2 linked regions of the Homo sapiens genome follow. The protein of the gene in region 1 interacts with the protein of each later gene in a biochemical or structural test. Each region holds a gene or a part of one and is shown on either strand. Other genes may lie near its edges.

Region 1 (7,561 bases):
TTAGTTTCTTAGTGCTGCTGTGGCAAATTACCATAAAGTTAGTGGCTTAAAACAATGCACATTTATTATGCTATGGTTCTGGAGATCAGAAGCCCACACTGGCTTATTGGGCTAATATCAAGGTGTCATCAGGGTTGTGTTCCTTCTGGTGGCTCTAGGAGAGAATCCACTTCTTTTCTTTCCCTGCTGCCTGCATCAGTTGGCTCCTGGCCTCCTTGCACCCTCAAAGCCAGCAAGGGCCAGTTGAGTCTTTCCCACAGTTGACTCTTTCTAGCCTTGCTTCAGTTGTCATATCTTGTCTGACTCTGATTCTCTGGCCTCATACTTGTACTGATAAAGACCCCTGTGACACAACAGGCCCATTTGGATAATCCAGAATAACCTTCCCATCTCAGGATCAGCGGACCAGCAAACCTAATTCCATCTGCAGCATTAACTTTCGCTGTCTATTTACATAGCATATTCACAGAATCTGGGGACTAGGGGTTGGTCATCGCTGGAAGGGGGCATTGTTCTGGGCTGCAGCCCCTGAGTGTCTCCAGATTGCCTTGCACATTTTCACCCGGTTTAAACTGCATAAACACAGCAAGGGGAGGAGGACGAGCCTTCCACTGTGATTTGCCTGGGGGTCCTTTGGCCCCTTATGGATAATTCCGCTAGCCAGTGAGATGTGTCATAACAACTGGAGCTGGACATTGAGCCAGCAAGCACTTATGGAGCGCCTTCTGTATGCCGAGAACTAAGCCAGACTTTAGAGATGGTACAAATATGAGGAGGATACAGTCCCTTCTCAGGGAGCTCATAGTCTCATAAAGAAGATGAGCCATCCACACCCCCAAATACAAAGCACAAGGGGAGAAAAGATGCAGTGAGGTGAGGCCGAGGACCACGAGCTGTGGCCCCACTCACAGGCCTGAGGAGGACGCGGTGGAGGAGGGCAGTCCAGGCTCAGCTCCAACTTGATATTTTTCATTTTTTAAAATTATCAATGAGTACAAGGAAATACACCCTGTTCCACTATCCTCCTGTCCCTCTCCCAACCTACTGTCTCCATCTCACTGAGCAGAGGTAACTACTCTATGGAAAAAAAGAATACATATGTATAAATCTTGTTCCTGATATATTCTGTATGTTAAAGTGTTCAAATGAAAAACATTATATAGGTAACTTATAGTGCTGTTTTATACAATGGGTTTCATCTATAACATGCTTTGCAGCTTGAACCAGTCTCTGACCAAATTGAAGATATGTTCCCAAGTCAATACATTGTGTATTTGTGCACTTCTAGGGCACATTGCCAAACACAGAATAGCTGTGTCAAAGGATATGCTCAGTTTTAATTTTGACAAATATTCCCAAGTTGTCATCCAAAAACAGTCATGCATCCTTAGGGACAAGAATATGTTCTGAGAGATGCAATGTTAGGCAATTTCATTGCTGTGCAAACATCATAGAGCTACTTACACAAACTTAGATGGATGTAGTCTACTACACACCTAGGCTACATGGTATGCCCTATTGCTCCTAGGCTACAGACATGTACAGCATGTTACTGTACTGAATACTGTAAGCAAAGGTAATACAATGGTAAGAATTTGTGCATGTAAACATATCTAAACATAAAAAGGTACAGTAAAAATACAGTATCATAACCTTATGGAACCACCGTCATATATGCTGTCTGTCACTGATCAAACGTCACGATGCAGTGCATGGCTGTATGAGAGCAGCTGTTCCTCCACACTCTCACTTACACTGGACATTATCCATTTTTTTTAACCTTTGTCAATCTGAAAGGTGGAAAAGGCTCGTCTCAATGTGATTTTGATTTGCATTCCTTCACTGATGAAGTGTAGTTAAAATATTTTTTTCACGTGCTCGTTTGTGTTTTACATCTTTGAGCTGTCTGGAATTTATTTTGTCATAAGAATAGGACTTTATCTTTTCCAAATGGCAGCACTTGTTATTAAATAATTCATACCCAACTCTCAATTTTAGAAATAAAAGGAGGCCATCTCAATCTAAACCTCACACTATATACAAAAATTAATTCTGAAGGAATCATGGATTGAAGAGTAAAGCATAAAACTTTTAGAAGATAACATAGGAGCAAATCTTCAGTATTAGGACTAAACAAAGAGTTCTTAGGCAGGACATCAAAATCACATTCTGTAAAATTCAAAAATTCATAAATTGATCTTCAATGAAATTAAAATCTTTTGTTCTGTTGAAGATCCTGTTAGAGGGATGGAAACACAAGCTACAGACTGGGAGATAATATTTGCAAATAACCTACCAAACAAAGACTTACAAACAGCAATATATAAAGAACTATCATAACTCAATGGTTAAAAAATAAAAGAAAGAAAAATTCAATTATAATATGAGCAAAAGGCTTGAACAGATATTTCACCAAAGAGGAAATATGGATGGCAAACAAGCACATGACAAGGTATTCAACATCTCTAGGCATTTGTGAAATGCAAATTAAAAATTTAAACCACAATAAGGCCCAGCACAGTGGCTCACACCTGTAGTCTCAGCACTTTGGGTGGTGGAGGCGGAAGGATTGTTTGAGCCCAGGGCTTTGAGACCAGCCTGGGCAACAGGGTGAAACCTTATCTTTACAAAAACTACAAAAATTAACTGGGCAGGGTGGCACACACCTGTAGTCCCAGCTATTCAGGAGGCTGAGGTGGGAGAATCTCCTGAGCCCAGGAGGTTGAAGTTGCAGTGAGCCATGATCTCTCCACTGCACTCCAGCCTGGGCAACAGAGCAAGACCCTATCTCTAAATAAATAAATAAATGACGTCTGTAGTCTAGTTAACTGTAATGTCCCAACGTAAATTTCCTGTTTTCTACATTGTCCTACAGTTGTATAGATGTCTTTGGAGGACACTGGAGGTATTATTTTTGCAACTTCCTGTGAATCTACAATGATTCAAAAGAAAACATTAAAGAATGTTCTAATATAAAGAGACTTTGAAAAGATGAGAGAAGAAAACCAGCTTTGCCAAAGTCTTTCCCGTTGCACAGGTAGTTTTCTTTGGCGGTCGCTTTATCAGCAATAACCTATTAACTTTCCTTCCTCCAGAGACACATGACATACCATCCTTTTGAAAAGTTGCCAGTTGAATAGAAGCCGTCTTAGACCAGGACAGACAAAAAAGTTGCATTAAAAAAATGGTTCTAAAAAACATCAGCCTACCCTTTTTCCAGATTACCAACTGTTACCATTTAACCCATCGGCTTTATGGCGTGGGATCTATCAATCTGCATCCTTGTTTCAGAACCATTTGATGTAAGTTTCATAAATCTTGTGCCTTTGCTCCTACTTACTTCAGTGTTTATTTCCTAAAAATATTCTCTTGTACACTGACAGTACAATGTGCAATTTCAGTAAATTTAACATTAATTCAATACTTCCATCATCGACCTGACACTGAGACTCATGCCTGTAGTCCTGGCACTTTGAGAGGCCAAGGCAGGAGGATCACTTGAATCCAGGAAATCGAGGCTGCAGTGAGTTATGATGGCATCACTGCACTCCAGCCTGGGCGGCAGAGGGAGACCCTGTCCGTAAAAAAAAGAAGAGAAAAGACAAGGAAAGAAAATACTTCCATCATCTCTGTTCCACTTTCGTCTGTTGTCACGGTACCGTCCAGTCCAGTCACAGTACCGGTTGGACCAATCTGGCTAACCCATTGTTTAGCCAATGGGTTACATGTTAACAGTTGGTAATCTGCAAAAAGAGTATGCTGATGTTCTTTTGAACTACTTTTTTAAATGCAGTTTTTGCATTTGTCCTGGCCTAAAACGCCTTCCATCCGTCTGGAAACTTTTCAAAAGGATGGTATGTCATGTGTCTGGGGAGGAAGGAAAGTTAACAGGTTATTGCGGATAAAGGAACCACCAAAGAAAACCACTTCTGCAACGGGAAAAGGCTTTGGCAAAGGTGTTTTCCTTCTTTCAGCCTGGGGTCTGGCTGCACCTACTTGTCATGCCTCTTTGAGGTCGTAGATATTGCAGATCTGAGTTTGCACCATCTCTCCCAGAGAGAGAGAGCACCCAGAACTCTCACGGTACCGCGCGGCTGCAGTGACTGCGTGCTCATCCCCTGTAATTGGCTCTGACGGTCCTGAAGAGCTAACTGGACTGTTTGTCTTGATCGTCCCATCCCCAGGAGCTTCTCTCTGTTGCGGGTGGGTTGGGGCAGAGGAGCCCCGCTTTGGGGTGCGCTCCTGGCCTGGGAAAACGGCTCAGGGCGGAGGGAGGAGAGCTGGAGAAGGAGAGGAAATTGGGGAAGGAGAGGGAATTGGGGAAGGAGAGGGAACTGGGGAAGGAATCCCCTAGGGAGGAGCGGAGCGGGGCAGTGCTCAGGGCTCGCAGATCGGCGGGGTCACCTGGGGCTCAGGGCGGCCAATCCGCGGCGCGGCCCGTCCCGCGGCCAATGGGAGGGCGGCGCGGCCCGCTCCCCTGGGCTATAAGCGAGCCGGGAGGCGGAAAGTGAAAGCGGTGCGGGCCGGGCGGGTGCATTCAGGCCAAGGCGGGGCCGCCGGGATGCTCAGGGTTCCGGAGCCGCGGCCCGGGGAGGCGAAAGCGGAGGGGGCCGCGCCGCCGACCCCGTCCAAGCCGCTCACGTCCTTCCTCATCCAGGACATCCTGCGGGACGGCGCGCAGCGGCAAGGCGGCCGCACGAGCAGCCAGAGACAGCGCGACCCGGAGCCGGAGCCAGAGCCAGAGCCAGAGGGAGGACGCAGCCGCGCCGGGGCGCAGAACGACCAGCTGAGCACCGGGCCCCGCGCCGCGCCGGAGGAGGCCGAGACGCTGGCAGAGACCGAGCCAGGTAAGCGGCGAGGCCGGGGAAGGGGGGCAGCCCAAGGCGGACCCCCAGAGCTCGGGGTGCAGGGACGCGGGGCTCCGCGGCGACAGGCAGAGGGACCTTCCCGCCTCCGCAGCCACGCGCGCGCCCCCGGAATGAACCCTGAGCCCCAGCGTCAGGGCGGCGCAGGATTCTGACACCGCAGGACTCGCCCGGCTCCGTGCCCTCCGCTCCCTGGGGCTCAGAAGCCGGCGCGACTGCAGCGCCACCGCCCTCCACCGTCCCAGGAGCGGATCCCGCCCCGCGCCACCCGCGATCGGCGCCAGCCCCCCGGTAGTTATGAGAACTAATAATAACTTATTAACAGTGACAAAGCAGGGGTTGACCAGCAAAGCCTCCGTGTGCTTCCCAATCCCGTGGGCAGTAAAGCGGTATATTCGGGGTTCCCTCCGGTGTCCAGGAGAGAGAGTCCACTTATTTTCTTTCCTGTCACTTCTGATGAGGCGACCGAACGCCTCGTTTAGCGAAGAGGGAATTAAAGCCCAGAATGAGCCTGCCTCTGCGTCTCCAGTGGCACAAGCCCTCTCTTGCCCACCTGGATCCTAACACCGGATGTCTTTTGGTCTGGCCTTCCCGGGTATCTTGTTCCACGGCATTTTCCCTGCCTCCCTCTCCCGCCTCTCCTCAGCACACAGATCCAGAATCCCCATATAATTCTACTAGACAGTAGGGAGAAAGTTCAACCACGAAACGTCTCTAACTTTGGGTTCTTGATGATTCTTAGCAAATGAATGCGTAATAAACATATTTACTCACTCTTCACTCCGGAGAGCTCCTTAGTCATGTGAAAAAAGTGAAATGTATCCACGATGACAGTGGGCTGTTTGTTCACTCACTAAAGAGATAAGGGTGGATTGAATTCTGTTCTCTTCCCTGCTAACATGTAACTTTTGTCTTCCCATCCCTCCTTCCCCACTCTCCTTTCCAGAAAGGCACTTGGGGTCTTATCTGTTGGACTCTGAAAACACTTCAGGCGCCCTTCCAAGGCTTCCCCAAACCCCTAAGCAGCCGCAGAAGCGCTCCCGAGCTGCCTTCTCCCACACTCAGGTGATCGAGTTGGAGAGGAAGTTCAGCCATCAGAAGTACCTGTCGGCCCCTGAACGGGCCCACCTGGCCAAGAACCTCAAGCTCACGGAGACCCAAGTGAAGATATGGTTCCAGAACAGACGCTATAAGACTAAGCGAAAGCAGCTCTCCTCGGAGCTGGGAGACTTGGAGAAGCACTCCTCTTTGCCGGCCCTGAAAGAGGAGGCCTTCTCCCGGGCCTCCCTGGTCTCCGTGTATAACAGCTATCCTTACTACCCATACCTGTACTGCGTGGGCAGCTGGAGCCCAGCTTTTTGGTAATGCCAGCTCAGGTGACAACCATTATGATCAAAAACTGCCTTCCCCAGGGTGTCTCTATGAAAAGCACAAGGGGCCAAGGTCAGGGAGCAAGAGGTGTGCACACCAAAGCTATTGGAGATTTGCGTGGAAATCTCAGATTCTTCACTGGTGAGACAATGAAACAACAGAGACAGTGAAAGTTTTAATACCTAAGTCATTCCTCCAGTGCATACTGTAGGTCATTTTTTTTGCTTCTGGCTACCTGTTTGAAGGGGAGAGAGGGAAAATCAAGTGGTATTTTCCAGCACTTTGTATGATTTTGGATGAGTTGTACACCCAAGGATTCTGTTCTGCAACTCCATCCTCCTGTGTCACTGAATATCAACTCTGAAAGAGCAAACCTAACAGGAGAAAGGACAACCAGGATGAGGATGTCACCAACTGAATTAAACTTAAGTCCAGAAGCCTCCTGTTGGCCTTGGAATATGGCCAAGGCTCTCTCTGTCCCTGTAAAAGAGAGGGGCAAATAGAGAGTCTCCAAGAGAACGCCCTCATGCTCAGCACATATTTGCATGGGAGGGGGAGATGGGTGGGAGGAGATGAAAATATCAGCTTTTCTTATTCCTTTTTATTCCTTTTAAAATGGTATGCCAACTTAAGTATTTACAGGGTGGCCCAAATAGAACAAGATGCACTCGCTGTGATTTTAAGACAAGCTGTATAAACAGAACTCCACTGCAAGAGGGGGGGCCGGGCCAGGAGAATCTCCGCTTGTCCAAGACAGGGGCCTAAGGAGGGTCTCCACACTGCTGCTAGGGGCTGTTGCATTTTTTTATTAGTAGAAAGTGGAAAGGCCTCTTCTCAACTTTTTTCCCTTGGGCTGGAGAATTTAGAATCAGAAGTTTCCTGGAGTTTTCAGGCTATCATATATACTGTATCCTGAAAGGCAACATAATTCTTCCTTCCCTCCTTTTAAAATTTTGTGTTCCTTTTTGCAGCAATTACTCACTAAAGGGCTTCATTTTAGTCCAGATTTTTAGTCTGGCTGCACCTAACTTATGCCTCGCTTATTTAGCCCGAGATCTGGTCTTTTTTTTTTTTTTTTTTTTTTTTTTTCCGTCTCCCCAAAGCTTTATCTGTCTTGACTTTTTAAAAAAGTTTGGGGGCAGATTCTGAATTGGCTAAAAGACATGCATTTTTAAAACTAGCAACTCTTATTTCTTTCCTTTAAAAATACATAGCATTAAATCCCAAATCCTATTTAAAGACCTGACAGCTTGAGAAGGTCACTACTGCATTTATAGGACCTTCTGGTGGTTCTGCTGTTACGTTTGAAGTCTGACAATCCTTGA
Region 2 (7,611 bases), on another chromosome or scaffold:
CACTTTGGGAGGCAGAGGCAGGTGGATCACCTGAGGTCAGGATTTTGAGACCAGCCTGGCCAACATGGTGAAACTCCATCTCTACTATTAATAAAAATACAAAAATTAGCTGGGCATGGTGGTGCACGCCTGTAATCCTAGCTACCGGGGAGGCTGAGGCACAAGAATTGCCTGAACCTGGGAGGCAGAGGTTGCAGTGAGCCAAGATTGCGCCACTGCACTCCAGCCTTAGCGACAGAGCACCCTGCCTCAAAAAAAAAAAAAAAAAAAAAAAAAAGTAGGGGATTTCTCCTTTTGTTTTATTGTGTAACATTGATGTGTGTTACAGCCTAGGTAGTCTCAAAATAGGAAATTATCTTGCTGGTTTTTCCAGCTGGGCAATTTATATTTATTTAGTCTTCCATTTATTCCATTTAAATGTTAATTTATTTTGCCATTTACTGTTCAAAGGAAAAGGAGAGCTCTATTCAGAAGACCATATCAGGGATCCTGTAGCATTTCTCATATTTCTGTATTTTTTGCCACTGTGGTTCTTTCTTGTTTCTGTGCCATGACCCCTTTGAGGAACTGAAGAATGCTCATTGTATATATGTTTAGAATAGGACAAGTAATAACAAACTTCCAAATCTCAATGGCTTAACAAAACAGAGGTTTATTTCTTGTTGACATCACAGACTACTGTGAATCAGGTGATCTTCCTCAATCTTACAGCCGTGCCTATCGAATATGAGGTTCCAAGATTGTGATACAAAGATACGGCAGGATGTCTCAGGGGATGATTTTTAGGATCTAAGCTTAGAAGTAGCTTACATCACTTCTGCTCAAATTCTGTTAGCTAAAACTCACTGTCATCTTCCCAAATATTATCTGTGTGCTCTTTGCTATTTCCCAGACCCCTGTTCATGGAGTTTCTGCTACATTCCATCTTTCTAGTCACCAAACAGCTCTTGGCTTCTTTCTTTACCCATGCATAACACACTTAGTCTCTCTCCTTAGGGAGAAATCCCAAAGTCCCATTCCATCATTGCACCCCGGCCCCAAATCCATGATCTCCAGATGATGTAAAATAGTATGTCAGGTTTATATATGACTTCTGTTGATCTGAGGATCAGTGAACTAAGAAGACAAGTTAACTGTATCCTTGTCCCCCAACCACACCCATTGTTCAGTGGTAGAATTTGGATAGCATAGTAGTCACTGGTTCTTGGCAATCCTGAAATCTCACTCCTAACCCGTGTGTGAGAAATTACTTGAATGGGCACTGATTTTGTTTTCTTGAAAGAACACCTTTATCCATCGTTCTTCCTGGTTCCTGGCTCTGTCCAGGGGGTTTGTTCTTTTCATTATCTACCTAGACCACATCTAAATGGTATTGGGAAGCATGCCCTCCTTAGGGGGCTGTATGGGCTTCAGAATCTGCCACCTGCTTGCAGGAGGTTGAATGCCAGAGGTTGTTTTAATTTCAAACATTCTGGCAGGATTCTGTAAACTATATGTTTGGTTTGTCCATCCATTTCCCTTAACATTTAGAAGCATGAAAAGAAAAATATTTGGTAGACATCTAATGTGTTTACTTCTAGTCAGTGTCTCATGCCAGTATCTGTTTTTCCTATACACAGTTACCAGCTTGTCTCATTTCTTTGTCCTTATGCATCTGCCTCTCTCACCTCTGTGGCAGCTATGTGGAGGCCATCTGAGGCAGACTGGTTCAAAGGCTACCTTCATTTTAAACTGATCTTTGCCATAGGGCTGTGTCCCTCTGTTTGAGTTTTATTGGGCTTCTGTTGCTCAGATTTCTTGTGTTAACTTATTGTTTAGGAATTCTGAAGTAGTGTGATTTTTCAATACCACAAGGTCCTGATTTTTTATTTATTTTTTAGATACAGGGTCCTACTCTTGCTCAGGCTGGTTTTGAACTCTGGGCCTCAAGCAATCCTCCTGCCTTGGACTCCCAAAGTGCTGGGATTACAGGCATGAGCCACCATGACTGGCCCAAATTTTTAGATTCTATTAACTTTTTTTTTTTTTGGTCAGGAACAGAAAGTCTCTAGCGTGCACCAAAGTGTTCTCTCGTCCTCTCCATTTTTATGTCGCCTCTCAAATCAGCCACTTTTTGCCTGAGCTCATGCTTCTTAAAGTACATTCCCAAGGCATCCAAGGATCCCAAGGATCCAAACACATACTATAACTTTTTTTCCCAGCTACTTCTTCTAGAACCTCAAGTTCATTAGGCAGTCAGCTTCCAAGTTATAGGAGATATTTTGCTAAATAGTTTGCCACTGCCTTTTGTTTCCATCTTTATCTTTGCTACCAGACTGCTAAGCCAGTGCCCTATAGCTTGATTTTTATTACAGCAGCATTAGTGCCACTTCAAGGCAATGATTTCTATTGGGATAATGCTAGCTGTACTAACAAATTGTTGCCCAAATGTATAATGGCATAAACATATTTATTTTTTCATTGGACTATAATCCTGAGCAGTACCAGGTCAGGGAATGGCAGGGATTGGGGTGGGTATGGGGACAATTCTACTCTTCCCAGTCATTCAGGGACTGGCAGGCTAACAGAATCTATCTTAAACACATGGCTGAAACTGAAATTGAATAATCTGTCTTAAAACTATACAGCTTGTCAGTGGAGGTTCCAAGATTCTTACCACTTGGTTCTGGCTTCAATGCCCATGCCTTTTTGCCCACATCTATATCAAGAATTGAAAAGACATCTGGACCAGCTGCCTAGCCAAAGTTTGTATTCTGTATTCAGTATGTAAGCCAATCAGAAAACTGGTGATTGCGTAACACATTCAGTTGCTGGGGGTACATTACCTCCTTATCTGGAACTGCAGATGTTTCCTTGCAACTTCTTTCTGGGGCCTCCATTTATTGGGGTCATACAAAATAAAAGATTATCCCTTTATCACTTAGAGAACACAATTTTCGTGCCCTTTTTGATTATTTTGTTTCTGAGTGAAAATTTCCCTATTATTTCACTATACCTTAAAATTTTGAATACTGATTGTTCAGATTTAGTCAGCTTCTACTTTGTCTAGGGTCCTTTTAAAGGGAATGCCAGAACTCAAGTACATTTTCCATGTGAGATCTGATGAACATAGAACAGAATAGAACTATCACCTCTGTAGACTTAAGATTTTTGTACTAACTGTATCTTTGTTTTCCTAGGGTGATACAATTCTGGAGACTGGAGAAGTAATTCCACCAATGAAAGAATTTCCTGATCAACATCATTAAAGATTATGTAAAAAGTTAAAAGGCTTATGAGCCTAAGTTTGTTCCTATATTACCATATTTACTGAATTTTCTGGAAAAGTAACTTTAATAAAGTTTAATCTCAGAAATTGTCATATCTGTTTTCAAGCATTGTACAATTTGAGACTGAGTAATTTAACAATAAGTAAAAAGTGGACATGCTAAACAAATATGAGAGACTACCTACTTTTTCTGGTCATTCTTGACTTGGAAAACGGTATGGAAAAGTATTTAGTTACATGTTTGTTTGTTTTTTTCTTACACAGTACTTACACTAATTTGGTATCAGGGTATGCAACAGTGAAATATCACAATAAACAAATGTAAGAACAGCAATTCCATGCACTTTTGTTTTAAGGAAATCTTTCCGGCCAGGCGCAGTGGCTCATGCCTGTAATCCCAGCACTTTGGGAGGCCGAGGCGGGCAGATCACGAAGTCAGGAGATCGAGACCATCATGGCTAACACAGTGAAACCCCGTCCCTACTAAAAATACAAAAAAATTAGCCGGGCGTGGTGGCGGGCTCCTGTAGTCCCAGCTACTGCGGAGGCTGAGGCACGAGATTGGTGTGAACCCAGAAGGCGGAGCTTGCAGTAAGCCGAGATAGTGCCACTGAGCCTGGGCGACAGAGCAAGACTCCGTCTCAAAAAAAAAAAAAGCTTTCCGAATCATTTTTGAAGAATTTAGAAACTTGATTGAAAAGCTTATTCCAACTATGATCTGACACTCAAGACTGTCAGATTTAGGTTGCTGTTAATTTTGTCATGAGAATGTAAAATACTAAAATCTCTAAGTGAAAAATTTGCATACTAGTGCTTGTTATAAAGGATAATGCAAAAATAAACTTGGGAACTTTGCATTATGAATTTTATTTTTATATCTACATAAGCATGAGGGAAAGAACTGTATTTTCAGATAATTAAATCCAGAAGAGTTACAAATTTTCATTCGTCCCAAAGATTTTGTCTGGGTATTTCTTCCTTAGCTGTCGTCTTGCAGACACCATCGAAGCATAGATGATGCAGCCCCAGGAGATTAAAACGATGGCAAGCAGCAACTAAACCAAAAATCGCAAAGGAGGTGTGAAATCTACCTGATATTTCCCCTCGCCCCCGTCAGGTTACCGTTGCCATTGCTAAGGTGGGAATTAAAGTAACAAAGTCGAATAAATGGGGTTCCAGTGGCGGGTACACCCAGCAGCCCTTACGTAAGAAGCGGAAGATCGTATCCTCCAGGAAGAGGCGGAGTCGAGGTGAGGGAGTGAAATGCTTAATTCAGGAATGGATTTTGGAGTTTCTGGGTGCTGAAGAAATAGGGCCTTTCCGCCTGCGGGCCCAGTGAGTCGACACGGTGGGGGCCCGCGATCCCCGGGACTTACCACTGAATAAATCCAGTCCAGCGTGCGACGACTTACTGGCTTCATGGTAAGGAGGCGGCAGCAGTCCGCGGGAGCTGGCGGGAGCTGCGGGCCTTACAGTAACCTCCCAGGCGGTGGCTGCCAGGCGCCAGCAGCCATCTTTTAGCCGGGCACGAGCGCCCGCCCACTCGCTTCGTGCAGCGCTGTCGCTGGCCTCTTCCGCCCGGAGTTGGGGGGCGGTATCACGTGATCGGGGGCCTTGCCCGCCTTTTAGAGAGGGGAATAAACGAGAAAATGTTAAAAATTGCTTTTTTTTTTTTTTTTTTGCCAACTAAGGAGATAGGCGTACCTCCACTGGTTTTCTTTCTAGTTGCAATGCAATATTAATGCAGGATAAGGTGCTGTCGTGTCCATTTAAAAGTTAATTTGAAAAACAATCCACGTTTTAAATATTACGTCTGGCTCTAAAGCTGGAAGAATTAACGCTTTCTCCCCCGCTCCCTCCCCCACGCCTCCCCGCATCTGATACCACACGATTTAGATGGACGTTCGCCTGTTCATCTTTGACGTAAAAATACCACCCACTCTTTTATATGTGACAAATCGTTGTGGGAACCCCTGTAAATCGAGCCATTCTTCAGAAACGTATAGCGTAATGTATATCTCTAAGAAGAAATACGTGGGACGCGTTACCCGCCATAATGTATCAGTCAAGCAACAAGTGTTTGTTGAGCGTGTCTGATGTTCTTGAACTGCCGCGCGTGAGATACTAAGCCCCGAGCACGGCAGTTTGGTGGGCGAGCGTACCAGGTTCAGCTCTAGAATGTTTGGGGCGCTCACATTTGAGGCCTGAGGAGTAGAATCTGGCAACGGGCCGCTTAGGCTCTAGACGTTCTTTATACCTCGCAGTTATCTTAAAAGAGTTTTAGTCTAGATTTCAGGGAGTGGGAAGGGGAAGAGCGGAGAAAAACGTGGTCTGTTTAGGGAGGAGTCCAGGCCCTGTTTTGTTAGGTTGTCCTGTTTCTCCCCAGCCTGGAGGGGATCCCTCTCTGAAGACTTTATAGGATACTGGTTGGGCTCTGGTTTGGGATCCCGTTGGACTCCTGGTGTTGCTTCCGGGAGGCGTACAACAGGAGGTGAGAGACTTCAAGTCCATCTAACAATTCCCCTATCTAGACACTAAAGATAATTTCCTAAGTTTCCGCAGAGTTTGGTAAGGTTGAAACGACATCGAACTAGTTCTCGTGTTTTCCGGGTAAGTTAGGGGCGAACATTCAGTCAGTGTCCCCAGTGGCTGAGTACCAGTAACAAGATGGGGAGGGTCGCGCTGCCCTCCTCCGGGGTCTGGAGCGGCGGGGGAGGGGCCGCATTTGGGCCGGTGCGCTGAGCCCCGCCCCCGAGGCCGGCGTCCATCTGCTGCGCATGCGTGAGGAAGGCGGGTGTTGTGTTTTGATGCGCGGGAGCTGGGGGGTGGGTCTCGCTCTCTGCCCTGCTTCCGAGCTGCCATTGGTGATGAGCCCTTTGCGTCACAGGGGTCGCAGCCGCCGCTGGGGTCTCCGCTGTCTCGCGAGGAGGGTGAAGCGCCCCCGCCTGCTCCCGCTTCGGAGGGTAGGCGGAGAAGTCGCCGGGTACGCCTTCGCGGATCCTGCCGACACCGACCTAGCTTTCTGGGCTGCCGGGAGCTCGCGGCGAGCGCCCCAGCCAGGCCTGCGCCGGCATCCTCCGAGGTGAGTGAGATTCGGAACAATGGGACGCGGGGGTCGGAAGGGCCGTGGGAGTTGGCGCTCCCGCCTGGAGCGGCGCCTCGGGACCCGAGGGTTGCGGTCATGGCCTGCGGGGCTGTCCGGGCCTCGGCGGGCCAGGGCCAGGGCCCCCGAGCGGCTCCTGCGCGCACCTGTGGATTGGTGCGGGCAGGCGAGGGTTGCGCTTCCCACAAGCGCTCCCGAGGGGCGCGAGCCTGGCCGTGTACTGGAAAGAGCTTGGTCTCAGGGAAAAGCAAAAAAGCAATGAGACTGAATCGTGGCGTCACCACTTACAGGATATGTGACCTTGCCTAGGTCCCTTAAATCCCTGAGCCTGTCTGTAAAATGGGAATAACAATATTTAAGTTCGTTGTGGTTATGTAATGCTCATGGTGCTTATCTTAGTCTAGTGGCAGTTCTGAACCAAAGTAAACGACTATCACCGTGGCTTTGGGAGTTGGGACTTGTCTGTGTTGTGTTAAACATTCTGAGCAGAAATTGCCCGTGACTTGTTCATCCATCCATTTACTGCAGCTTTCCTCATGGGTTGCTGATTGTAGGCTGGAAGGGGGCAGTGCTGAGATGAGCCACATAGTGATTTAAGAGGAAAACGGAGTAGACCTTTTGATAGGTAATTTTCAAGATTATTTAAGATAAATTAAGAAACAGCTGCCCAAGATTTAAGTTAATAGTGGTGAGAGCTTTCTGGGTTTTGTCCATGAAATGCAAAGAAAGCTATACAATCAGCTAAAATCAATCATACTTGTCTGGAATGAGTGGTTTTAGAGGCGAACGGTTCCCAGCCAATTCTTTTTGCTGGAATTGGATTAAATTTGATAGGATCTGGATAAATTTGATAGGATCTACTGAGATCCTGTGACTTTTGTATCTTCTTTTGGAGTTGATTAAATGCAGTTCAGAGAGGTACAGTGATTTCTTTAAGGTGGCAAGAGGTAGGAACCAGTTTATTTTTAATACTTGGGTGATCTTTCTATTTCATCTATTCGTGAACCCTTTTTAGTCACTTTGCCTAGAAATATTAAGTATAATAATTATATTAAGTATGATGATTATTTTGTTGTTATAAACTATCCTCTGTCTGGACCCATATAATCAGTTATGGGTGATGAGCTACCGAAATTCACTTCGTGTTCACGTAACATAGAGAACATTGTTGAGTTCTTACTGTGCATCAAGCACTGTGCTAAGGGTTTTTATGAAATATGTCCCGTCACACAACCACCTT

Evidence for each region. The genes of interacting proteins can lie anywhere in the genome.
Region 2: the proteins of NKX3-1 (region 1) and TOPORS form a complex in vitro, tested with the Homo sapiens proteins (one study listed by BioGRID).

The regions. Positions count from the first base shown.
Region 1 is NC_000008.11:23,679,890-23,687,450, reverse strand, and holds the start of NKX3-1 (homeobox protein Nkx-3.1), read left to right. Parts: upstream 1-4,512; 5' UTR 4,513-4,561; coding exon 4,562-4,847; intron 4,848-5,811; coding exon 5,812-6,230; 3' UTR 6,231-7,561.
Region 2 is NC_000009.12:32,549,513-32,557,123, reverse strand, and holds the start of TOPORS (E3 ubiquitin-protein ligase Topors), read left to right. Parts: upstream 1-4,537; 5' UTR 4,538-4,644; coding exon of another isoform or gene 4,645-4,687; coding exon 4,688-4,690; exon of another isoform or gene 4,691-4,890; intron 4,891-5,316; exon of another isoform or gene 5,317-5,980; intron 5,981-6,155; coding exon 6,156-6,350; intron 6,351-7,611. Other genes in the region: NDUFB6 (NADH dehydrogenase [ubiquinone] 1 beta subcomplex subunit 6), read left to right, coding at 3,180-3,248; SMIM27 (small integral membrane protein 27), read right to left, coding at 4,201-4,323, 4,645-4,689. UniProt on the Homo sapiens protein: Functions as an E3 ubiquitin-protein ligase and as an E3 SUMO1-protein ligase. Probable tumor suppressor involved in cell growth, cell proliferation and apoptosis that regulates p53/TP53 stability through ubiquitin-dependent degradation.